Linked DNA regions of Homo sapiens: regions 2, 3, 4 and 5 are each linked to region 1. Evidence: fine-mapped expression QTL. A gene starts in region 1. Each other region holds a variant in brackets. All regions are shown on one strand. Distances are between the middles of the regions.

Evidence for each region. PIP is the estimated chance that this variant, and not a neighbour inherited with it, causes the effect.
Region 2: its variant is the best candidate, but not a certain one, in a credible set for the expression of NDE1 in whole blood (TOPMed, PIP 0.80).
Region 3: its variant is the best candidate, but not a certain one, in a credible set for the expression of NDE1 in monocytes after Pam3CSK4 (Quach 2016, PIP 0.59).
Region 4: its variant is the best candidate, but not a certain one, in a credible set for the expression of NDE1 in lymphoblastoid cells (GTEx, PIP 0.73).
Region 5: its variant is the best candidate, but not a certain one, in a credible set for the expression of NDE1 in whole blood (INTERVAL, PIP 0.90).

The regions. Positions count from the first base shown.
Region 1 is chr16:15,647,496-15,652,596 of GRCh38, reverse strand. NDE1 (nudE neurodevelopment protein 1) reads right to left here and starts at 2,352. Exons shown (of 9, transcript NM_017668.3): 1 at 2,303-2,352. RefSeq lists enhancers at 1,650-2,149, 2,150-2,651.
Region 2 is chr16:15,740,717-15,745,817 of GRCh38, reverse strand. MYH11 (myosin heavy chain 11) reads left to right here. Exons shown (of 41, transcript NM_002474.3): 20 at 581-689; 21 at 3,927-4,058; 22 at 4,149-4,355. Among named protein-coding and RNA genes, the nearest start is that of NDE1, 93 kb to the right of the region's middle. The variant C/G (reference allele first, on the strand shown) is at 3,201.
Region 3 is chr16:15,693,623-15,698,723 of GRCh38, reverse strand. It overlaps NDE1 (nudE neurodevelopment protein 1), which reads right to left. Exons shown (of 9, transcript NM_017668.3): 7 at 4,468-4,559; 8 at 1,864-2,015. Among named protein-coding and RNA genes, the nearest start is that of NDE1, 46 kb to the right of the region's middle. The variant AAT/T (reference allele first, on the strand shown) is at 2,674.
Region 4 is chr16:15,725,199-15,730,299 of GRCh38, reverse strand. NDE1 (nudE neurodevelopment protein 1) reads right to left here. Exons shown (of 9, transcript NM_017668.3): 9 at 3,947-5,101. It overlaps MYH11 (myosin heavy chain 11), which reads left to right. Exons shown (of 41, transcript NM_002474.3): 28 at 3,246-3,452. Among named protein-coding and RNA genes, the nearest start is that of NDE1, 78 kb to the right of the region's middle. The variant C/G (reference allele first, on the strand shown) is at 2,082.
Region 5 is chr16:15,733,782-15,738,882 of GRCh38, reverse strand. MYH11 (myosin heavy chain 11) reads left to right here. Exons shown (of 41, transcript NM_002474.3): 24 at 195-318; 25 at 1,263-1,434; 26 at 3,305-3,517. Among named protein-coding and RNA genes, the nearest start is that of NDE1, 86 kb to the right of the region's middle. RefSeq lists an enhancer at 1,705-2,461. The variant C/G (reference allele first, on the strand shown) is at 2,005.

The sequences.
Region 1 (5,101 bases):
GAAAGAATTTTTCCTACTGTGGTTTTGCCTCCTCCAACCCTTTTCAAACATTTCTTGAATACCTACTAAGTGCTGGGCACTGCTGAAGGAGGCAGACAAAAAGCACCCACATCCATTGCACGAGGTGCACGTGTAGTACTAACTGCAGGCACAAACTTTCTGTACACAGGAATGCTCATGTTAGGAAATTACCTTGTGAGGAAAAGGAGTGTCAATTCTCGGCTCACATTCTAAGGCAAAAGAACACACTTTGGGCTGCATGCAGTGGCTCATGCCTGCAAGTAATCTCAGCACTGTGGGAGGCCAAGGCAGGAGGACTGCTTGAGCCCAGGAATTTGAGACCAGCCTGGGCAACAAAGCAAGATTCTGCCTCTACATAAAAAATAATAATAATGATAGAGTCGGGTGCAGTGGCTCATGCCTGTAATCCCAACACTTTGGGAGGCTGAGGTGGGCAGATCACGAGGTCAGAAGTTTGAGACCAGCCTGGCCAATATGGTGAAACCCCATCTCTACTAAGAATTAGCCGGGCATGGTGGCACGCACCTGTAATCCCAGCTACTCAGGAGGGTGAGGCAGAAGAATCACTTGAACCCGGAGGACTGAGGTTGCAGTGAGTCGAGATCATGCCACTGCACTCCAGCCTGGACAAGAACAAGACTCCGTCTCAAAATAAATAAATAAATAAATAATAAATAACACACTTTGGAAACAAAAATAAGTCAAGTTAATAAACTGTTATCCAACATGGGATAAAATATATGAATCACAGGCCCCTGAGACTTCAGCGGCACAGATCATCTGCATTTAATCCTACACAAAACACACACTAAGAGGAAAGGCTCAAAATGGGTTGTAGGCCGGCACGGTGGCTCACGCCTGTAATCCCAGCACTTTGGGAGGCCGAGGGGGCAGATCACGAGGTCAGGAAATCGAGACCATCCTGGCTAACACGGTGAAACCCCATCTCTACTAAAAATACAAAAAATTAGCCAGGCGTGGTGGCACGCACCTGTAGTCCCAGCTACTCCGGAGGCTGAGGCAGGAGAATCGCTTGAACCCGGGAAGCGGAGGTTGCAGTGAGCCAAAATCGCACCACTGCACTCCAACCTGGGCGAGAGTGAGACTCTGTCTCAAAAACAAAAACAAAAAAAAAAAAAAAAAAACGGGTTGTATACCAACGAGGTGATGGAGGCTGGGGTGGTCGGGTAACAAGAGGCTTTAGGAGTAGCTGGGATCTAATTAATCTTCAAAACACCCGACCCATGTCCTAAAATGCCATCCTATGCTAGAATACACTATAACAAAACTAAAAATGATGAACCTGCCTAGGTCGTGCTGCAAAGGCCTTTTCTTTAGAAAGTTAAAAGGGGCCTGAGGCTCAAAGTAGAAATTAAGAGGCACAACCTGGTAGTAACCACGGACAAAGCAATCAAGGAAGCTCAGGCCCTCAGGAGGCAGAAAGCCTGAGATGGCTCGGAGAAGATAAAGTCGCCTCCCCAAAAGCGGTGTCAAGGTGACAGCGGGGTTTCCCAGGACCTCAGAGACTCAGGTCCTCAGTGAGCCCAGCCATCACTCAAGCTGCGGAATAAGCATTTTCGTCCTTTACCCAATCCCTCCCCAAAGTGCTGTCAGAAGAAACCTGAACCGTCCTGCGGCAGAGACGGGAGCAAAGCGGAGAGCAGACTGCCCCAAACGTGTTCCCGGAGGGAGGGAGCAGGGTGGGTTTTTGGAAAGAGGCCTGCAGGGGCGGGACAGTGGGTGTGAGGGCAGGGGCAACGCTGCAATCGAGGGGTCTGGGGTCGCAGAGAAGCGGGTGGCAGGATGGAGGAATAGGAGAGAGAGAGAAAAGAAACGAGGGTCATCTAGGAGAGGAGTATGGGGAGGAAGGAAGAGGAGAAAGAGGATGGAGCCTGGCAGCGGGGTTTGGGGACCGGCAAGGCTTAACCACCCAGGAAGTCCCGGAAGGAGAAGAGGGCAACGGGGTGGGAGAGAGACCAACGCAGAAAGAGAAACAAAGTTGCCAAGGGCGAGGGGCCAGCGCGAGGAACGCACCGGTGGCAAGGCACTCAGTGCCTAACTTTTTAGGACGGGAGGCTCCAGGGAGGCGGGATTTTGGAGCCCAGGGACCGGGGGAGTCCAGGCGGCCGGGAAGCGACGCGCAAGCGAGGGGCGTAGGGGTCCCTGCCAGGCGGTGGCCCGGGGTCCCGGGATCCTGGGGCGGGGCAGAGGAGCTTTTCAGCCGCGGTGGAGGTCCCCGGACAGCCACCCCGACCCCAGCCCCGCGCAGCGCCTCACTTACCCGAGCAGGGGCGGCGAGGCCAACGCGGCGGCGGCGGCAGAGGCGGCTGCGAAGGGCGGTGCGGCCCCGGCCCTCCGGACCCCGCCCCCGCCCCGGAGCCTGCGGTCGGCGCCTCCCATTGGCTGCTGCTCTACGGTACCGCGTCCGCCTCGGCCAATCAGCGCAGAGCAGCGTCGTTTGGAAACTTTTTTCCCAGGCCGGGCGCGGCGCGGCCAAGCGGCGAAGGCTCCTGGCCGGAGGGGGTTTGAGAGGCGCCGGCTGCCGGGCGCTGGGCTGCGGCGGGCTGGCGGGCATTGGAGATGCTGCAGAACGCTGCCTGGACACCCGGGAAACGGGTTTGGGCTTGCGGGCCGCGCATTTCAGGAAAATACGCCGGCCTCTCCTTCACTTCGATTGCATTTTCCCATTCTTGCACTTTCTCCAAATCAGAAGGAAAGACAAAGATTCAGGCCCACTGAAGCTAGCAGTGCCCCGTGCCCTTCCTACTCCTTTACACCAAAAGTAGAATCTTCAGCATCATTATCTTCTCCAGAAGCAGGAGAACGTAGTGCACCAGAATTTGGTCATAAACTTGGCTTTGAGTCCTAGTCCTGCCCCTTACTAACTGTGTGGTCTTGGGAAAGTTGTTTAGCCTCTATGACTCCGTTTCCCCATCTATAAAACGCCATTATGGGTCTGGCGCGGTGGTCACGCCTGTAATCCCAGCACTTTGGGAGGCCAAGGCGGGTGGATCACGAGGTCAGGAGTTCAAGACCAGCCTGGCACATGGTGAAACCCCGTCTCTACTAAAGATACAAAAAATTAGCCGGATGTGGTGGCACGCACCTGTAATCCCAGCTACTCAGGAGGCTGAGGCAGGAGAATCACGGGAAACCGGGAGGTGGCGGTTGCAGTGAGCCGAGATCACACCACTGCACTCTAGCCTAGGCGACAGGGCAAGACTCCGTCTTAAAGAACAGACAAACAAACAAACGACATTATGCAGAGGACTAAATGACTTAACAGCATTTGTAAAAACGTTTAGAACAGAAATTTGAACTTAGTAAGTACAATATATGTATTTGTTAAATGATCTTGATTTTGTTTATTTATTTATTTTGAGATGAAATCTCCCTCTGTCTCCCAGGCTGGAATGCAGTGGCGTGATCTCCACTCACTGCAACCTCTGCCTTCTGAGTTCAAGCAATTCTCCTGCTTCAGCCTCCCGAGTAGCTGGGATCACAGGCCCGCATCACCACACCCGGCTAATTTTTATATTTTTAGTAGAGACGGGGTTTCACCATGTTGGCCAGGCTGCTCTCGAATCCCTGTCCTCAGGTGATCCACCCACCTCGGCCTCCCAAAGTCCTGGGATTACAGGCGTGAGCCACCACACACTGCCTGAAGATCGTGATTTTTAAATGGCTGTGTGTGCCAGGCACAATTCTCACAGCAACCCTAATTGTTCACTAACAAATTAAAATTAAAAAATAATTTTTTTCTTTTCGAGACAGAGTTTCCCTCTTGTTGCCCAGGCTGGCGTGCAATGGTGCGATCTCGGCTCACTGCAACCTCTGCCTCCCAGATTCAAGCGATTTTCTTGTCTTAGTCTCCCTAGTAGCTGGGATTACAGGCGCCCACCATTACGCCCAGCTAATTTTTTGTATTTTTAGTAGAGACACGGTTTCACTGTGTTGGCCAGGCTGGTCTCGAACTCCTGACCTCAAGCAATACACCTCAGTCTCCCAAAGTGCTGGGATTACAGGCGTGAGCCATGTAACTCAGAAGGCAGAGGTTGCGGTGAGTGGAGATCACGCCACTGCATTCCAGCCTGGGAGACAGAGGGAGACTTCATCTCAAAATAAATAAATAAATAAAATCAAGCCACCATGCTTGGCTGGAATTTCTTTTTTTCTTTATTTTCTTCTAAAACATCCTGTCATAACATGTTCATTAACAAATACCGAACATTCTGGTTAGTGGGTACAAAAATAGAGTTAGAATGAATAAGATCTAGTATTTGGGAGCACAGCAGGGTGACTACAGTCCACAACAATGTATTGTACATTTTAAAATAACTAAAGGAGTATAATTGGAGTGCTTGTAACACAAAGAAAGGATAAATGCTTGAGGTCATGGACACCCATTTACCCTGATGTGATTATGATGCATTGCATGCCTGTTATCAAAATATCTCATGTACCCCATAAATATAAACACCTACAGTGTACCCATAAAAACTAAAAATATATATATTATTATCCAGCTTTTTTTTTTTTTTGTGAGACAGAGTCTCACCCTGTGACATAGGCTGGAGTGCAGTGGCATAATCAAAGCTCACTGCATCCTGGACCTCCCAGGCTCAAGTGATCCTCCCACCTCATCCTCCGGAGTAGCTAGGACCACAGGTGTGCACCAACACGCCCAGCTAATTTTTACATTTTTTTGTAGAGACGTGGATCTCACTATGTTGCCCAGGCTGGTCTTGAACTCCTGGGCTCAAGTGATCCTCCTGCCTCAGCCTCCCTCCCAAAGTGCTGGGATTATAGGCATGAACCACAGCACCCGGCATTATGAGCATTCTTCTGTACAATGCACCCTTACAGCACAGTGAATACAGTCAGACAAAGTACCTGTCCTCAAAGGGCTTATATTGTTAAGAGAGAAACATACTAAATCTATAAGCAGAAAAAGTAACGTCATTTCAGATACTGATAAGTGCTATGACTAAGGCAAGCCCATTTGATACAACGGGCTGGGAGGGGTCACTTCAGATGCTATAGTCAGGGAAGGCCACTGTAGAGAGGAGACCATGCAACT
Region 2 (5,101 bases), 93 kb before region 1:
GTCAGGAGTTTGAGACCCACCTGGCCAACATGGGAAACCCCATCTCTACTAAAAATACAAAAATTAGCCAGGCATGGTTGTGGGCACCTGTAATCCAAGCTACTCAGGAGGCTGAAGCAGGAGAATCACTTGAACCCCGGAGGTGGAGTTTGCAGTGAGCTGAGATCGTGCCACCGCACTCCAGCCTGGGCAACAAGAGCGAAACTCTATCTCAAAAAAAAAAAAAAAAAAAAAAGAAAGAAAGAAAAAAGAAACAGCTAGTGCAGCTGGGGAGTACGGGAGCCCCCTTAGGAATGATGCACATAGTTGTGTTTTCTGAGTGGTGTTTGGATCTCAGCTAAGTCCAGGGCATGTTGTGAGCCCTGGGTCTTCCTTGTCCACTGAAAAAGGCTCTGTCCTGTAGATGATTTAAGTTGTTTGCAGCCAGACAACACATGTGTCACACAGGGTTTCTGGAAGAACCTGAGTTGGGGAGATTGGGGCATGTCCCTGTGCAGGTTCAGGATGCTGCAGGGCAGGGCTCTGTTGACAGCAGGGTGTGGCTTCATGACCCCCGCACCTTCTCTTCCCCCCTCCCTAGGGCTTTTGCCAAGAGGCAGCAGCAGCTGACCGCCATGAAGGTGATTCAGAGGAACTGCGCCGCCTACCTCAAGCTGCGGAACTGGCAGTGGTGGAGGCTTTTCACCAAAGTGAGTGCTCTGCCCCAGCCCCCTTCCCAGGGGCCCCCAGCCCTGCTTCTTCACTCTGGAGCCTTCACATTTGGGACAGGAGGTGGTCGCAAGTGGGTGTGGAATGGAGGGCTCGAACTCAGACCTTGAGCATTGGCGGTTCTCTGGCCCGAGGAGGCCCTGTCCTTTGGCACATAGGCTATAGCCAGGACCTTAACACAAAGTATTAATATTTCCATCCGCACTGGAATCCCTCGTGTGGCCCATTTATAGCCACACCCACTTCCTCCGTAGCCATGGAAACCACTCTGTTCTCCAGTTCTGTAATTTTGATGGTTCAAGAATGCTGCCGGGGGCGGCGGCTCACGCCTGTAATCCCAGCACTTTGGGAGGCCGAGGCAGGCGGATCACTTGCGGTCAGGAGTTCAAAACCAGCCTGGCCAACATGGCAAAACCCTGTCTCTACTTAAAATACAAAAATTAGCTGGGTATGGTGGCAGGCACCTGTAATCCCAGATACTCAGGAGGCTAAGGCAGGAGAATCTCTTGAACTCAGGAGACAGAGGTTGCAGTGAGCCAAGATCATGCCTGCACTCCAGCCTGGGTGAAAGATTGAGACTCTGTCTCTTCTTTCTTTTTTTTTTTATTTAAAAAAAAGGCCAGGCACGGTGGCTCACGGCTGTAATCCCAGCACTTTGGGAGGCCGAGGCGGGTGGATCACAAAGTCAAGAAATCAAGACCATCCTGGCCAAGATGGTGAAACCCTGTCTCTACTAAATGTACAAAAATTAGCTGGGCGTGGTGGCAAACGCCTGTAGTCACAGCTACTCAGGAGGCTGAGGCAAGAGAATCACTTGAACCTGGGAGGCAGAGGTTGCAGAGAGCTGAGATCGCGCCACTGTACTGCACTCCAGCCTGGTGACAGAGCGAGACTCCGTCTCAAAAAAAAATAAAACAAATATTCTATACATGGAATTAGAGAGCATCCAGACTGTTGCATGTATCAATACTGCAGGTTTTTTTTTTTTTACTTTTTGCATTTTTTGAAATGGAGTCTCACTCTGTTACCCAGGCTGGTCTTGAACTCCTGACCTCAAGCAACCCTCCTGCTTCAGGCTCCCAAAGTGCTGGGATTACAGGCATGAGCCACCTCATCTGGCCATAGCATATTATTTTTTATTTCTGGCAGAGTCAGGGCCTCCAGAGGACTCAACTGGTTCCTGTAGTGGCACTGGTTGCATTGTCCCCATGGCACAAAGACATGCTCTGTTGCAATAGACTAGGCTTCTCCTTATATGCCCTTGAGTGTATCCACTGGTGCAAGGCTTTTTCACCAAGCAAACAGACATTGAGTGCCTGCTGTATCCCAGGCACATGCTAGGTGCTGGGGGTGCAGCTGTGAACACACACCATGGTCCCTGACCTCCATGAATATTCTAGCCGAATTGGTGGGGAGTAAACAATAAACAGATAATCACAGAGACAGATACATAATGGCAAACTGTGATAAGTGCATGAAGCAAGCTGCTGGAGTACATAGCAGGGGCTTCCTTGTGCCAGGCAGGGGCTTGAAAACAAAGAGTTAGGAGGCAGCCCAGGGAAGGACAGCAGATGCTGCTTTTTGGAAATGTTCGTCCCCACTGAACCAACTTCTGAAAAACTATCCTAAGAAAATCGTCTTAGCCAGGTGTGGTGGCTCATGCCTGTAATCCCAGCACTTTGGGTGGCCAAGGCAGGAGGATCACCTGGGTTCACGAGTTCGAAACCAGCCTGGCCAACATGGCGAAACCCTATCTCTACTGAAAATACAAAAATTAGCCAGGTGTGGTGGTGGGCACCTGTAATCCCAGCTACTCAGGAGATTGAGGCAGGAGAATCACTTGAACCGAGGAGGCAGAGGTTTCAGTGAGCTGAGATCGTGCCACTGCACTCCAGCCTGGGTGACAGGGCGAGACTCCACCTGAAAAAGAGAAAAGAAAATCAAGAGTTAAGGGCATTCATTATGGCCTTATTTACAATAGCAGAATTTCAGTGTCCAGTCCTAGCTGAATGATGAGTTCAATAATGGTTCATCTATCAATGGAATGTTTTCAGCTATTAAAATGATGGCTTTGGCTACTGAATAGGTCTGCTAAAAAAAAAAAAAAAAAAGACTTCTACCTAGCTGTCTAGTTGGACACTGTGGCATGTGCCTGTAGTCCCAGCTACTCTGGAGCTGGGGTGGGAGGATCGCTTGAGGCCAGGAGTTCAAGGCTGCAGTGAGCTATGATTGTGTCACTGCACTCCAGCCTGGGTGACAAAACAAGACCATCGCTAAATAAATAAATTAACTTAAAAGATGGCTATGTAAAGTTGTAAGAATGATGTAACAGCATGGGGTAATACATATCTTATAATTTTTAAAAAAATTTTATTTGTGGAGACAGGGTCTCACTGTGTCACCCAGGCTGGAGTGCAGTGGCACAATCGTGGCTCACTGCAGCCTCAGCCTGCAGGGTTCAAGCGATCTTCCTGCCTCAGACCCCTCACTAG[C/G]TGGGACTACAGGCACACACCACCATGCCTGGTTACTTGTTTTTGTAGAGATGGGGTCTCATGATGTTGCCCAGGCTGGTCCCAAACTCCTGGGCTCAAGCGCTTGCCTCGGCCTCCCAAAATGCTGGGATTACAGGCATGCATCACTGTTCCTGTCTGTATCATATAATTTTAAATAATAAAAGCAGCCTCTACAACTAGGCAGCATGGTCTTAAGTCTATTTTTTAAACATAGAAAAAGAGCCAGGAAGGAAATGTAAACAATGTTAATAATGACTTTGATAGGGAGGTGGGTGGGATATGAAAGATTTTTTTTCTCCCTTTTGTCCTTGGAAGGAAATATCACTTTTCAGCAGTAGTTCTCTGTTGGGATGGTTCTAAAGTGGGGAAGATGAGACTTTTTCCTTTCACTTTGTACCTTTTCTGGTGCTCTGATTTAGAGCTCCTCAGTCTTGCCACTGTTGATATTTTGGGGTGACTAATTCTGTTGTGGGGGCTGTCCTGTGCACTGTAGGGTGTTTAGCAGTATCCCTGGCCTCTACCCACTGGATGCCAGAGGCACCCCCCACCCCAGCTGTGACAATCAGCAGTGTCTCCAGACAATATCCCCTAGTGGGGATCGGTGGGGGCAACATTGTCCCTGGCTCGGAACCACTGATCGAATTTATTATGACAACATATCCCTTTGCCACAAAAACAAATGATGGGCTAACCGTGTGTGTGCAGGTGAAGCCACTGCTGCAGGTGACACGGCAGGAGGAGGAGATGCAGGCCAAGGAGGATGAACTGCAGAAGACCAAGGAGCGGCAGCAGAAGGCAGAGAATGAGCTTAAGGAGCTGGAACAGAAGCACTCGCAGGTACCTGTATGGATGCATGGCTGGGGTTGCTGGGGAACAGGACTTGGCCCCGTGGGGCTCACCCGCCTCCTCCCCACCACCTGCGTGCAGCTGACCGAGGAGAAGAACCTGCTACAGGAACAGCTGCAGGCAGAGACAGAGCTGTATGCAGAGGCTGAGGAGATGCGGGTGCGGCTGGCGGCCAAGAAGCAGGAGCTGGAGGAGATACTGCATGAGATGGAGGCCCGCCTGGAGGAGGAGGAAGACAGGGGCCAGCAGCTACAGGCTGAAAGGAAGAAGATGGCCCAGCAGATGCTGGTAAGGTGTCACAGGGGCAGCCCGTGGTGGGTAGCAAATCACTTGACCCTCACCACAGGCCTGTGGAGGTGCATCCAGGGATATGTGTCCCTGCTGGGACAGATGATGAGACGGGGGCTTGGAGAGGGTTGGTCATCTGATCAAGGCCACACAGCTGGGATTGGGACTGGAACACAGTGAGCCCACTCTGTTCTATTGCCCTGCCTTGCATGTGCTAACCCCTTTTCTCCTAACAGCAAGCCTGAATGGAGGATAATTGTATTTGTTAGCTATTGCTACATAACAAAACATGCCAAACTCAGCAGCTAAAAATAAAAAGTATTGCATAGTCAGGAATTTGAGAGTGGCTTAGGTGAGTGGTTCTGGCTGAGGGTCCGGCCTGAGGTTGCAGTCAAGGTGTTGGCTGAGGCTGCAGTCATCTGAAGGCTCATCTGGGGCTGGAGGACCCACTTCTACTTGGCTTATTCACACAGCTGTTGGAGGAGGCCTCAGTTCCTTATCATGAAGGCCTCTCCCCTCAGGGCTGCTTGAGTGTCCTTCCAATATGGCAGCAGAGTTCCCCCAGAAGGAGTGATCTGAGAGAGGAGAAAGGAAGCCGCAATGCCTTTTATAGCCTAATCTCTGAAGTTACATTCCATCACTTCTTCCTGATTTTTGTTGTTGTTGTTAGAAGCAAATCTAACCCCCACTCAAGGGGAGGAGAATTAGGCTCCACCTTTTTGGAGTCGCAAAGAACTTGTGGATAG
Region 3 (5,101 bases), 46 kb before region 1:
ATGCCCGGCTAATTTTCGTATTTTTAGTATAGATAGGGTTTCACCATGTTGCCCAGTTTGGTCTTGTGAACTCCTGGCCTCAAGTGATCCACCCACTTCTGCCTCCCAAAGTGCTGGGATTACAGGTGTGAGCCACTTCACTGCACCTGGCCTAAAAATCCACGTGTAAAGGTCTCAAAGTTATGTGCATGCCATGGAAAATATTCTTAATTTCCTGTCACGTGTCTGCTACAAACCCATCAAATTCCTACGGCTTGGGGCCCAGAGAGATGGTAGTCACACACCTTGCAGAATTCCTGAATCTGAAAGCTGCCCCTTTTTTTTCTGAGACAAGGTCTCGCTTCATCACCCAGGCTGGAGTGCAGTGGCTGGGAACACGGCTCACTGCGGCCTCAACCTCCAGAGCTCAATTGATCCGCTGCCCTCAGCCTCCCAAAGTGCTGGGATTACAAGTGTGAGCCACTGAGCCTGGCCCTGATTTTCTTTAGGCAAGAAAATTAATGACACTGTTAGAGATCAGATCTGCACTGTCCCATCGGGTGGCTGGTTTCAGGAACATAGTCTGGGCTAGAAGTTAGTGCCAGTTTCTCAAAGGTTCTACAGATTTAAAAAGAAAAAAAAGGGCTGGTTGCAGTGGCTCACGCCTGTAATCCCAGCACTTTGAGAGGCCGAGGTGGGTGGATCACAATGTCACGAGATCAAGACCATCCTAACACAGTGAAACCCCGTCTCGACTAAAAATACAAAAAATTAGCTGGGCATGGTGGCACACGCCTGTAATCCCAGCTACTCAGGAGGCTGAGGCAGGAGAATTGCTTGGACTTGGGAGGCAGAGGTTGCAGTGAGCTGAGATCATGCCACTACACTCCAGCCTAGGCGACAGAGCAAGACGTCTCAAAAAAAAAACAAAACAAAACAAAAAAAAAAACTTCAGGGGAAGCAGAGCCATGACTGATGCTCAATTCCCCAAATAAGGGCTTTATTTTTATTTAACTAATTAATTAACTTTTTGATATGGAGTCTTGCTCTGTCACCCAGGCTGCTGTGCAGAGGCACAATTTTGGCTCACTGCAATCTCTGCCTCCAGGGTTCAAGTGATTCTCCTTCCTCAGCCTCCTGAGTAGCTGGGACTATAGGCACATGCTACCATGCCTGGCTCATTTTTCTATTTTTTTTGGTGGAGATGGGGTTTTACCAATGTTGCCCAGACTGGTTTTGAACTCCTGACCTCAAGTGATCCACCTGCCTTGGCCTCCCAGACTGCTGGGATTACAGGCGAGCGTCACCACACCTGGCCCAAATAAGGGCTTTTATACAGGACATTCTCACAGTGTAACCGTGAGTAGCAGCTGTAGAATCAAATGATAAAAATGACCTTCTTGGCCAGGCATGGTAGCCCACACCTGTCGTCGCAGCACTTTGGGAGGATGAAGGGTGAGGATCACTTGAAGCTCAGAGTTTGAGACCAAACTCGGCAACATGGCAAAACCTGTCTCTAGAAAAAATACAAAAAATTAGCCGAGCACGGTGACACGCACCTGTACTCCCAGCTACTCGGGGGACTGAGGTGGGAGGATCGTTTGAGCTGGGAGGCAGAGGGTGAGCCATGATCCTGCCATCGTATTCTAGCCTAGGTGACAGAGTGAGACCCTGTCTCACAAAACAAGACCCTCTCTCTAGCCCTTTGTTCAAGCCACAAGACACCACCTAATGCTGCCTGCAGGGAGCAGAGGAGAGGATAAGGTTTGCTGAAATAATCCTATAATTTAAAAAGACACATGGCTGTGGGCTGGGGGTGAGTGTCTCTTGCCTGGGGCAGGCGGGTTCTCCCCGCCAGCGAGAGGTTTATTAGAAGGTACTGACCCCTTATCACCCAAAGGCACGCTGGTGCTGCTTGGCCGTCTCTCCCCGCCATCTCTGTTCTTGCTGCTCCGCCCAGAGGCTGGGCCACCTGTTCGGTTTGGGGACTGATCGTACACGAGGTTCCGGCAGGAAGCGAGTTTGGACTCCAGTGCCTGGACAGAAATACACTTTTATCTCTCAAGTTATAGGCAAGGACTATTCTGTCTTACCAGAGCCTGTACAGAAGAACGAACCCCAGACAGTGGTTCTCAAACTGTTGTGCACTGGAATTCCAAGGTGGGACCCCAAGAGGAATCCAACGTATATGCCAGTCTCAGAACCAAGCACCTTAAGTATTTGGGAGCTGGCTGGGCACAATGGCTCACACCTATAATCCCAGCACTCTGGGAGGCCAAGGCAGGAGGATGGCTTGACATCAGGAGTTTGAGACCAGCCTGGGCCACAAAGTAAGATCCCATCTCAGTTTTTTTTTTTGTTTTGTTTTTTACTTTTTTAGACGCTGTGTCACCCAGGCTGGAGTGCACTGGTGAGATCACAGCTCACTGCAGCCTCAACCTCCCAGGCTCAACCAATCCCTCCCACCTCAGCCTCCTGAGCAGCTGGAATTATAGGCATCCGCAATCATGCCCAGTTAATAAAAAAAATTTTTAATGCAAAAAATTTTTTTTAATTACGAAAAATTTTTTAAAATGTTTGGGAGCTGCCTGGAAAAAGATCACGGCTCACTGCAGCCTCAACCAATCCTTCCACCTCAGCCTCCTGAATAGCTAGGACTATGCACAATCATGCTTGGCTTAAAAAAAAAAAAAA[AAT/T]TCTTTTTTAATTACAAAAAATTTTTTAAAATGGGAGCTTTCTGGAAAAATCACTAACCTACCAATTATCCAACTCCGCTTGTAGGAAGTAGGAAATCCACTTCTGGAATCCTTCACCCTTTGGTTTACCTTGTTAAACCTCTGCAGAATGGCAAGAAGTTTGGTAAGGACTTGGTCTGGCTACAACAGACCCTGAGGAAACCAAAAGGACACTGACAGCACCCCAGGCTTCTCTATACTCCAACTAGGCTAAATACTGAAATGCAGACCTGCTTCTAGAATAGCAAACCAGACAGCCAAAAACCAGAAGTAAAAACAAAAGAAATGAGTTGCAAGCTTCTATTAAGTTGTAGCTACAAATACACTGTGTACAGTGACAACTTGGTAGGAGTTAAATTATGTGGCCTTCTAGGCATCATTTTTAAAAATAAACTACAAAGAATACCTATGTTTTTACTTAAGCACAAAAGGATCCCTCCCTGTAATTAACATAAAAGCTGAAAGGCCAAATTCTTTGCCCTAGGCTTTCAAGATTTTTTTTTTTTTTTTTTTTGAGACCAAGTCTCACTTTGTCACCCAGCGGTGCGATCTCAGCTCACTGCAACCTCCGCCTCCCGGATTCAAACAATTTTCCTGCATAAGCCTCTCAAGTAGCTGGGATCGCAGGTGCCCACCACCATTCCTGGCTAATTTTTGTATTTTTAGTAGAGATGGGGTTTCACCATGTTGGCCAGGCTGGTCTTGAATTCCTGACTTCAGGTGATCCACCCATCTCGGTCTCCCAAAGTGTCAAAATTCACTTAAACCCCAAGAAACAAACCAAAAAAAAAAAAAAAAAAAAAAAAGGTGGCAGTTTTTTTCTCTTCTGAGACAACGTCGTGCTGTCACCCAGGATGGAGTGCAGTGTTGGAATCTCAGCTCACTCAGCCTCAACCTCCCAGGCTGAAGCAATCCTCCCACCTCTCAGCCTCCTGAGTAGCTGGGACCACCAGTGTACACCATCAGGCCTGGCTAATTTTTGCATTCTTGTAGAGGCCAAGTCGGGGCAGGGGGTTTCACCATGTTGCCCGGGCTGGTGTCAGACTCCTGAGCTCAAGTAATCTCCCACCTTGGCCTCCCAAAGCACTGGGATTACAGGTATGAGCACCCGGCCAAAAGAGAAGGCAGTTTCCAAGTGCTCCTTAATTTTTCGAGTTAAGGAAAAAACACACATATCACCCTAATTTCCCAAATTTCCTAGAGGAAAAACGGTAAAAGGAAAGAGACATACATAGGGTTCAGAGCAGGGCTTCGAGTCAGAGCTCTGAGTGTCTGGCAGTAACTCCCACAGGAAGCTCTAATGATTCCCAGGGATGCTAAAGGAGCAGCCACACCTAAAACTCACCACACTGCTATGAAAGGGGCTGGACGCATTGGCTCATGCCTGTAATCCCAGAACTTTGGGAGGCCAACCTGGGAGGATCACTTGAGGCCAGGAGTTTAAGACCAGCCTGGGCAACACAGCGATACCCACATTACTACAAAAAAATGAAAGTATCAGCCAGGCATAGTGGCGCACACCTGTGGTCCAAGCTCCTCGGGAAGCTAAGGTGAGAGGATCGCTTGAACCCAGGATTTTGAGGCTGCAGTGAGTTGTGATCATACCACTACACTCCAGCCTGAGCAACAGAGCAAGACCCTGTCTCTAAAAAAAAAGAAAAAAAGAAGAGAGGGAAGGAACTAGATCAACCCCCTTCACACATCCTGAAAGACAGGCAGGAAGGCACCAAACGCCAGGAAAGTGTGGTCTTACCCCGACTTTCCGCAGTAGGTCTCCCACAATGTTGAGGGCTGATATCCGGGCCGCAGGTGTGAGGGGGGTCCCCCCGGTGGAGTCGTCCAGGCCTGGGTGTGCAAAGGGAAGAGCATGTAACTCACCAACCTATAGTCATGTCTGTGCGTTAACATCGCTAGATCCAAAACCACGGGACAGGAGGGACACTGACGCCTTTCCTCGGATCCCAAAAGCTACCCTATTTCTTTCCGTAGTTAACCGCATCACACACCCAAGGCCCGTATGACAACCAATTTTTCAAGTCCTTGTGATGACTGCAACAAATACTTATTTTTACATGTTAGTCTTGCTCTGTCACCCGGACTGGAGTGCGGTGATGTGATCTCAGCTCACTGCAACCTCCGCCTCCCAGGTTCAAGCGATTCTCCTGCCTTGGCCTCTTGAGTAGCTGGGATTATAGCCATGTGCCACCACACCCGGCTAATTTTTGTATTTTTAGTAGAGACAGAGTTCCATCACGTTGTCCAGGCTGGTCTCGAACTCTTGACCTCAAATGATCTGCCCGCCTTGGCCTCCAAAAGTGCTGGGATTACGGGCGTGAGCCACCATGCCTGGCCTTTAACAAATTTTTTTTTTAATAGAGACAGGGTCT
Region 4 (5,101 bases), 78 kb before region 1:
TTGGCCTCCCAAAGTGCTGAGATGACAGGTGTGAGCCACTGCACCACCCTGAGATTGGGTAATTTCTAAAGAAGAGAGGTTTAATTGGCTCACGGTTCTGCAGGCTGTACAGAAAGCATAGCAGCTTCTGCTTCTGGGGAGGCCTCAGGAAACTTACCATCATGGTGGAAGGCAACGGGGAGGCAGGCATGTTTTACATGACCAGAGCAGGCAGAAGAGAGAGAATGGGGAGCTGCCAGACACTTTTAAACAACCAGATCTCATGAGGGCAGCACCAAAGGGATAGTGCTAAACCATTAGAAACTGCCCCCAAAGGCCGGGCGCGGTGGCTCATGCTTATAATCCCAGCACTTTGGGAGGCTGAGATAGGCGGATCACCAAGTCAGGAGTTCAAGACTAGCCTGACCAACATAGTGAAACCCCATCTCTACTAAAAATACATAAAATTAGGCTGGGTGCAGTGGCTCACGCCTGTAATCCCAGCACTTTGGGAGCCCGAGGCAGGCAGATCACCTGAGGTCAGGAGTTTGAGACCAGTCTGGCCAACATGGCAAAACCCCGTCTCTACTAAAAATACAAAAATTAGCTGGACGTGGTGGCGGTCGCCTGTAATCCCAGCTACTTGGGAGGCTGAGACATGAAAATCACTTGAACCCAGGAGGTAAAGGTTGCAGTGAGCCAAGATTGTGCCACTGCACCCCAGCCTGGGCAACAGAGTGAGACTCAGTTTCAAAAAAAAAAAAAAAAAATTATGGTTGGAAGAGTGAGGCCCCAGACAGAATCACTGACCCTCCCCATGCTTGGGGTTCATTAGACGTGAACAGGAGCTAGAAGCCAAGCCCATTCCCAGCCAGGCCTCTTTGGGAAGACGCAGTTATTAAGACCACCAGCAGACGGCATGTCCATTACTGACCCGCACAAAGCAGGTAGAGGTGCAAACCTCTGCCCATCTCAGGTGCAGGGAAACAGAGGCCTTTGCCTCTAACAACTTGAATTCTGATGTAGAGACCTGGTTCCATCTGCTTGTGGGGGAAACGTTTAACATCAGCTCCTACCTGGGCTCCCCAGGCCCTCGTGCGGTTTGGCCCCAGTTCTGGGGTCTTAGGCTGGGCTAAGGTTTCTGGGAGCCCATGTCCCCTAGGGTCCCCGCTTCACTGCTTTGTTACCACCAAGAGACTCCCTGTCCCCATCTGAGGTCTGGCAGCTCTTAGTCATGTCTTGGAGGGAGGACGGGCATCCAGGGCTGACCGGTCAACGTCCAGCACCTCCCAGGGACTATGGGAAGACTGAGTGGTGGGTCTCGTCCTCTCGGGATACTTGCGCTTCTCTTTCCCCTTCTCTACAACCTGGAAAGAAGCCCCTCACCGCGTCCTACTTTTGCCCAACACGCTTTTTTTTTTGAGACAAAGTCTCACTCTGTCGCCCAGGCTGGAGTGCACTGGCGGGATCTCGGCTCACTGCAACCCCCGCCTCCTGGGTTCAGGCAATTCTCCTGCTTCAGCCTCCTCAGCAGCTGGGATTACAGGTGACTGCCACCATGCCCGGCTAATTTTTATATTTTTAGTAGAGACGGGGTTTCACCATGTTGGCCAGGCTGGTCTCAAACTCCTGACCTCAAGTGACCTGCCTGCATAGGCCTCCCAAAGTGCTGGGATTCTAGGCCTGAGCCACCGCGCCTGGCCCCAACACACTTTTTTTTTCCTGTAGGGCAACTCACATGCCTACAGGAGCTGGTTCCATAAAATAAGTTTCCCTTAACTAGGACAGAAGTAGCAGTGTCAATCACACGACACCTGTGAAGGACGGGGGCGGTGAAAGGTGACTGCCCCACCTGCAGAGCCAGCCGCTACTTAGATGTGGCAGATTGTTGCCTTGAAGGAAAGCAAGACCCTCTGTTTCCAGATCTTTCGTTGTTGTTGGTTTTTTGTTTTTGTTTTTAAGTTTAGGATTACTGAGGCATATGTAGTAAAATTTATCCATTTTACTGCTCCATTAATTTTAACAAATGTGTATTGTGTAACTACCACCACCACAGTCACCACATAGAATGTTAGTTATTGATTGATTGATTGAGATGGAGT[C/G]TCACTCTGTTACCCAGGCTGGAATGCAGTGGCATGATCTTGGTTCACTGCAACCTCCACCTCCCAGGTTCAAGCAATACTTGTGCCTTAGCCACCCCAGTAGCTGGGACTACAGGCGTGCGCCACCATGCCCGGCTAATTTTTCCATTTTTAGTAGAGATGCAGTTTCGCCATGTTGGCCAGGCTGGTCTCGAACTCCTCACCTCAAGTGATCCACCTGCCTTGGCCTCCCAAAGCTACTTATTTCTGAAACAGGGTCTCACTTTGTTGCCCAGGCTGGAGTGCAGTGGTGTGATCATAGCTCACTGCAGCCTCCAATTCCTGGGCTCAAGCAAGCCTGCCATCCGCCTCCTGAGTAGCTGGGATTGCTGGTGTGTGCCCCCCACACCCAGCTAATGTTTTATTTTAGTAGAGATGGGGGTCTCACTACATTGCCCAGGCTGGTCTTGTACTCCTGGCCTTAAGCGATCCTTCTGCCTGCTTCCCAAAGTGCTGGGGATGACAAGTATGAGCTGCCATGGCATGCCTTCAAACATTAAAGTTTTTTGAAAAAGAAGCTGGGAATCCAGATTTTTATGTGACATTTATTAAAATGTCGGCAACTCATTTTTTTAAAAGTAGTGAAAGGGTCAAAGGGGACATGTCAGCAGGTTGGATACCGCTTGTGGGATTCCAGATTGCAACCCATGAGCTTTAGGAAAATAGAATCCAAAATATCAGCTGGGTGCGGCAGCTCACGCCTGTAATCCCAGCACTTAGGGAGGCCAAGATGGGTGGATCACTTGAGGTCAGGAGTTCGAGAGCAGCCTGGCTAACATGGTGAAACCTCGTCTCTACTAAAAATACAAAAATTAGTCGGGCATGGTGGCGGGCGCCTGTAATCCCAGCTACTTGGGCAGCTGAGGCAGGAGAATAGTTTGAACCTGGGAGGCGGAGGTTGCAGTGAGCCAAGATTGTGCCACGGCACTCCAGCCTGGGTAACAGAGTTAAGACTCCATCTCAAAAAAAAAATAACAACAAAAAAACCCCAAATCTCTTACTGGTGATTGTGTGCCCCCTGTTGTGTGCCTTCCTGGACCTCTCTGAGGGAGGAAAGGGCAGGGCCTGAAACGTTCTCCCGGCCACAGCCTCCCTGTTATCCCTCCCCTCTGCTTCCTTCGCCAGGCCAAGGCGAACCTAGACAAGAATAAGCAGACGCTGGAGAAAGAGAACGCAGACCTGGCCGGGGAGCTGCGGGTCCTGGGCCAGGCCAAGCAGGAGGTGGAACATAAGAAGAAGAAGCTGGAGGCGCAGGTGCAGGAGCTGCAGTCCAAGTGCAGCGATGGGGAGCGGGCCCGGGCGGAGCTCAATGACAAAGTCCACAAGCTGCAGGTGAGGAGGTGGCGCGGTGGTGTGGTGGGCAGTGCTGGGTGGTGCCCAGTTCTGTGGGGAGGAGCCTCTTCCCGGCTCGCTGAGGTCTCTCTTGCTGCAAGGCAAGTCCTTTCCTCTAGTTGCGTTCCTGGAGGAGAGGCGATGATCTCCCTGTTCAATTAAATATTAAAAAAACCTTCTGGCCAGGCACGGTGGCTCATGCCTGTAATCCCAGCACTTTGGGAGACAGAGGTGGGTGGATCACCTGAGGTCAGGGGTTTGAGACCAGTCTGGCCAACATGGTGAAAAGTCTCTACTAAAAATACAAAAATTAGCCAGGCGTGGTCGTGGGCACCTGTAGTCCCATCTACTCGGGAGGCTGAGGCAGGAGAATAGCTTGAACCCAGGAGGCAGAGGTTGCAGTGTGCGGAGACCGCACCATTGTACTCCAGCCTGGGCTAAAAGGGCAAAACTCTGTCTCAGGAAAAAAAAAAAAAAAGAAAAAAAACCCTTCCTTTTCCAATTTGATAAGTATTTATTGAGCACCTGCTGTATGCCAGGCACTGTGCTTAATCCTGAGATCCAACAGCAAGGAAGAAGAGACACTGTCGCTGCCCCAGTAGGACTCCAGCCGAGTAAGGGGAAGGGAAGGGAAGGGAAAGACATGAATAATCACACAAATGAATGTCAAATGATGCAGCAAAGGGAAGGCACATGATGCCCAAGTGTAAATAACCAGGGGGCCTAACCTGGGGGAGGAGGAGCCACGAAAGGCTTCCCTAAGGAGCATGGATAAGTCTACCAGGCAGAGGGAACAGCGTGTGCAAAGGCCCTGTGGTAAGTAGAAAAATTAGGAGAGAGACATACAGCCAGTAGAGCTGGAGTGCCCAGCTGGGGTTGGGGGTAGGGGGAGATAGTACAGAGTGGGGTTGGAGGGGGAGCTTGTACCCAGATGATGTAGGGCTTTTGAGAACCTATTACATGTATGTTGATCCTTACTCTGGGCAATGTGAAGCTGTTGAGGGGTTTTAAGCTGCTGAATGACATGGTCTTTTTGTCTTTGGTCTTCTTTCACTTGGCATAGCCATTTACCCTGCCTTGCCACTCATGGGGACGTGGCCAAAGTTTTCACAAATGTTTAACATGTCCACAGCCAGGGACCAAGGGGCGAGGGAAGAATTAAGTGAGATGTTTTTTTCTCACATGCAGTTGAGAGCAGGGCTTTTGCCGCCCTCATATAAGCAGTGTCAAGATCATTCATATCCTCCTTGTCAATGGAAGAGATGGAGGGGTAGGCTAACAGCCTCAAAGGGACTTATGCAGAGACACTAGGGAGTAAAAGCCAGAGAATACAGAGAGGACGTTTTTACCTTTAGGGCCTGCGTCTCTGGCTTTGGCCATCAGGGTCAAAGAGTAGGAGTGAGGAAGGAAGGGATGGGACAGCATCCCTGGGACGTTCAAGTACCATCCTGGTCTCCCTTCTCCAGCCTTAGAGAGTGGACCAGCCAGAGCACCTCGTCTGGACTCTCAGACCTGCTGCTTTGTCTCTACCAACCTTGGCAGGGATCTAGGATCCATTTAGTGGGATCAGGTCCCAGTCAATACCATTGGGGCTCAAATAAGTTCTTAGAACCACAGAGTCTAGGGCCAGGGTCCCAACTCATAGGTGA
Region 5 (5,101 bases), 86 kb before region 1:
CTGGCACGAGATGAGAAATGGCCAGTTTTTGGAAATTGTTATGGGACTTCTCTTTACCATTTAAAACTCTAGTTGTATTTTGTTATAATGTGGGTTTTTCTTTCAACTGTTTACATGGAAATCACTAAAAGTGAAACATAGATTCTAGAGAAAAGAAAAATCCTAAAGCTATCTCTTTCTCTTTCCCCAAAAAGGAACGAAAACTCCTTGAGGAGAGGATTAGTGACTTAACGACAAATCTTGCAGAAGAGGAAGAAAAGGCCAAGAATCTTACCAAGCTGAAAAACAAGCATGAATCTATGATTTCAGAACTGGAAGGTAAACCAGCTACCAAGAGATTTATTTTTATTTTATTTTATTATTTTTTTTAGAGATGAGGTCTTGCTCTGTTGCCCAGGCTGCAGTGCAGTGGTGCGATCATGGCTCACTGCAGCCCGAAACTCCTAAGCTCCAGTGATCCTCCTGCCTCAGCCTCCTGAGCAGCTGAGACTACAGGCGTGCATCACCACACCCAGCTAATTTTTTTTTATTTTTTATTTTGTAGAGATGGGGTTTCACTATGATGCTCAGTCTAGTCTCAAACTCCTGGGCCCAAGCAGTCCTCCCACCTTGGCCTCCCAAAGTGCTGGGATTATAGGCATGAGCCACTATTCCTGGGCTTGAATGGGTATTTTTAAAAGCAGGAAAATCAGAAAGGAAATTTGAGGATGGCAGATCATCCCATGAGTGACAACTAACTCTATGCCACCTCTCGAAATCACCCTTAGTCATCACATGCACTAATAATATGATAAAAGGGCTGGGTGCGGTGGCTCTCGCCTGTAATCCCAGCACTTTGGGAGGCCGAGGTGGGCGGATCACGAGGTCAAGAGTTGGAGACCAGCCTGGCCAACATGGTGAAACCCTGTCTCAAAATACAAAAATTAGCCAGGCGTGGTGGCGGGCGCCTGTAATCCCAGCTACTCGGGAGGCTGAGGCAGGAGAATTGCTTGAACCCGGGAGGCGGAGGTTGCAGTGAGCTGAGATTGCGCCACTGCACTCCAGCCTGGGCAACAAGAGCAAAACTCCATCTCAACTAATAATAATATTATGACAATATAAGGTGCTGTTCATCGGGAGATAATGGTCCAGACCGTGACTATGATGGTTACTGATTGGGGGATGTGTTCATCTCCTCCGGGTAAAATGCCTGGGCAGGAAGGCTCATTTCCGGGCATCTCTCTGGGGCCTCCCCTTCCTGAAGAGCACCTTGGTTTTTGCAGTGCGGCTAAAGAAGGAAGAGAAGAGCCGACAGGAGCTGGAGAAGCTGAAACGGAAGCTGGAGGGTGATGCCAGCGACTTCCACGAGCAGATCGCTGACCTCCAGGCGCAGATCGCAGAGCTCAAGATGCAGCTGGCCAAGAAGGAGGAGGAGCTGCAGGCGGCCCTGGCCAGGTAGCGGGGCTGGCAAGGGGCATTTGCTGTGTGTCCATGTATCCCCTGGGCCCCTGCTCATTCGCTCATTCGCAGTGGCTGTCTTGGTCAAGGCGGCCCCAGGCCCTTGGCATGAACTTCGTTTCCCAGGCCAGGCCTCCCACAAGCCTTCTCGACCCTGTTCACTCCCCCAGATCCTCACCTTCGACTTTCTTCTCTTCCCTGCAAACACATCATGTCTTTGCAGTTGATCTCACCTACTCCCATGGTGTTGCTGCTGCCTCTTCGACATCCAGGCTTTTCTCATCTAGACCCCCTTCTGAATTTCCGATTGCCCAATGAGTCAATTTCCACCGTCATCTCAAACACCCCTGTCTAAGGCGGGAATGACCTTCCTTTCCCCAGCCCCTCCCTCTAAGGGCCCTCTTTTTTGTGAACACCAATCTCCTCCTTTGTTTCTGCCGACCCACAGCAAGCAGCAACCTTCAGATTCTGCCAGTCCTTCTAAATGTCCCCCACCCATTTCCTCTGGTTTTTCCCTCTTCCTGGCTCTTAGCTGGATTTACACTAATGCTAATACTGCAGCAGCCA[C/G]TATGAATGATTATTTACCTGCTCACTCGGTGCTAAGTTCTTTTCAAGCAATACCTTTGCAGACACCTGGCCAGGTGTACTGCCGGTGTCTTTGAGGAGGAAGCTGAGCCTCCTAGGGGTAACGCAACAGGAGCAATGTCATTGCTTCTAAGAGGCAGAGCTGGGATTTAAGCCTCAAAGCTTTCTGATTGATCCCCTGGCCTGGCTCTTTTGTCGGCCAATTTGTGCTATGTTGACAGTGCTACGGTGATGAAGGGAAAGCATCTCTCTGGGGCAGGAACCTGCTCACAAAACTTTGCTGGCTGGATGCAGTGGCTCACGCCTGTAATCTCAGCACTTTGGGAAGCCGAGGTGGGGGGATTGCTTGAGGCCAGCAGTTTGAGACCAACATGGGCAACATAGCAAGACCCTGTCCCTACAAAAAGTTAAAAAATGAGCCAGGCATGGTGGTGTGTGCCTGTAGTCCCAGCTACTCAGGAGGCTGAGATGGGAGGATCACTTGAGCCCAGGAGGTTGAGGCTAAAGTGAGCTATGATCATGCCACTGCACTCCAGCCTGGGCAACAGAGCAAGACCCTGTCTCAAAACAATAATAACAACAAAACAAAAACCTAACTTCACTGGCTTACTAGGGAAAATCCAGTTTCCTTAGCCTCACCCTCAGAGCCCATCCACCCTCTGCAGTCTCACCCCAACCCAACTATTTCACTTTCTCTCTTGTTGCTGCCCTTTCACAAGTACAGTAAAATCAAAGTGCTTGCCTCTCCTGCAGCATTCTGCCATTTAACAGGGCTTCTTGCAGCCCACCTTGATCTCTGGTCACCACCTCCACCAGATGCAGAGCCCCAGTCTGAATATCCCCCGCAAGCAGTGGCTGGCCAAATGCTGTGCATGGGGCGGGTACTCAGTCACTGAGCAAATGCAGAAAGAACAGACAGTTGCCAGGGAAGAAGAACTGTCCAACATTCAGAAAGCATCTACACAGTCCCTACTGTGACCAGGTACCTTGCCAGTCTGGGGTCAATGCTTTGCATTCTTGCACACACATGCACACACGTGCATACACACGTACACACACCCATGCACATGTACAACCTGTTTTGATGTCAGACCTTGGCACTCACATCCTATGTTAATCTCATATAGTCTGGCATGTCAAGAAGCAGACCTGGGGACATGGATAGAAGGTGTTTGATGTCTCTGCAACATAACTGTCTGGTCCCAGAAAAGTTTTTGGCCACATTGTAAGAGAGGAAACCAAGGGACCTGGGGGTTCATTCTGCTGGGTCTCTCCCTGGAAGGCTTGACGATGAAATCGCTCAGAAGAACAATGCCCTGAAGAAGATCCGGGAGCTGGAGGGCCACATCTCAGACCTCCAGGAGGACCTGGACTCAGAGCGGGCCGCCAGGAACAAGGCTGAAAAGCAGAAGCGAGACCTCGGCGAGGAGCTGGAGGCCCTAAAGACAGAGCTGGAAGACACACTGGACAGCACAGCCACTCAGCAGGAGCTCAGGTGAGGGGCCCATCAATCCCACCATCCTGCTATCCCACTGCACCAATGGGATGGGGGCAGAAGAGGGGACAAACCCAAAGCAAATCGTGCATCAGCCCCTGTGCATTTACCTTCCTGGCCGCGGTTTGCTTTAACTTATAGAAGCATGGTTGGCTGTTTCTTTTTTTTCTTTCTTTTTTTTTTTTTTTTGAGGCAGTCTGGCTTTGTTGCCTAGGCTGGAGTGCAGTTGTGCCATCTTGGCTCACTGCAACCTCCACCTCTGAGATTTAAGCGATTCTCATGCCTCAGCCTCCTGAGTAGCTGGGATTACAGGTATGTGCCACCACACCCGGCTAATTTTTTGTTTTTAGTAGAGATGGAGTTTTGCCATGTTGCCCAGGCTGGACTTGAACTCCTGGCCTCAAGTGATCCACCCACTTCCGCCTCCCAAACTGCTGGTATTACATGTGTGAGCCACTGCACCCGACCCTCATCATCTTATTTCTCATCAGAAGAGTAGTATATACCAGGGATGTACAATCTTTTGGCTTCCCTTGGCCACATTGGAAGAAAAAGATTTGTCTTGGGCCACACATAAGATACACTAACACTAATAATAGCTGATCAACTAAAAAAATTTTACAAATTGGAAAAAACATCTCATACTGTTTTAAGAAAGTTTATGACTCTGTGTCAGGCTGCATTCAAAACCATCCTCATTGGTAAGCTTGGATATACTCAGAGAACAATTTGAAAACTATAGAAAAGCAGACATAAAAAAAAATCACCTTTAGGGTCGGGCTCACGCCTATAATCTCAGCACTTTGGGAGGCCAAAGACAGGTGGATCACTTGAGGTCAGGAGTTCAAGACCAGCCTGGCCAACATGGTGAAACCCTGTCTCTACTATAAATCCAAAAATTACCTGGGCGTGGTGGCGCATGCCTGTAAATCCCAGCTACTCAGGAGGCTGAGGCAGTAGAGTCACTTGAATCTGGGAGGCAGAGGTTGCAGTGAGCTGAGATCGCACCATCGCACTCCAGCCTGGGTGACACAGTGAGTGAGACTCCATCTCAAAAAAAAACAAAAAACAAAAAAATCACCCTTAGTCACACCAGTTAACATTCTTGAGAAATTCCTTCCTGTCTGTGTGTGTATCAGTCAGTCCCCAAGCTCCAATTCCCAAGTATGTGTGTGTATCACTTTTGTGTTAAATTTTAAAAATAAAATTGATCAGATTGGTTTTCAATTGAAGATTCACTTCAAATGAACAAACAATAACAAACTGCCTGCCAGATCACGAATCCTGACTCTAGTGAAACTAGGTCATTGATTCATTCAGTAAACACATAAATGTATTTTGATGCAATCTGTGGTGTTGGCATAGCATGTATCATAGCATATAGCTATGCTAGCTGTGCCAACACCATATACCCTGGGGTTTACTTCCCCCACTTTGGGTTTTGTGCAGTGTCACATGCACATAGAGCACAGCGTTCTGCTCCCTTGCCGCTTGGCCTTTGATACAGAAGAGCCCAGTGCATGGGCCAGGTATGGTGGCTCATGCCTGTAATCCCAGCACTTTGGGAGGCTGAAGCAGACAGAT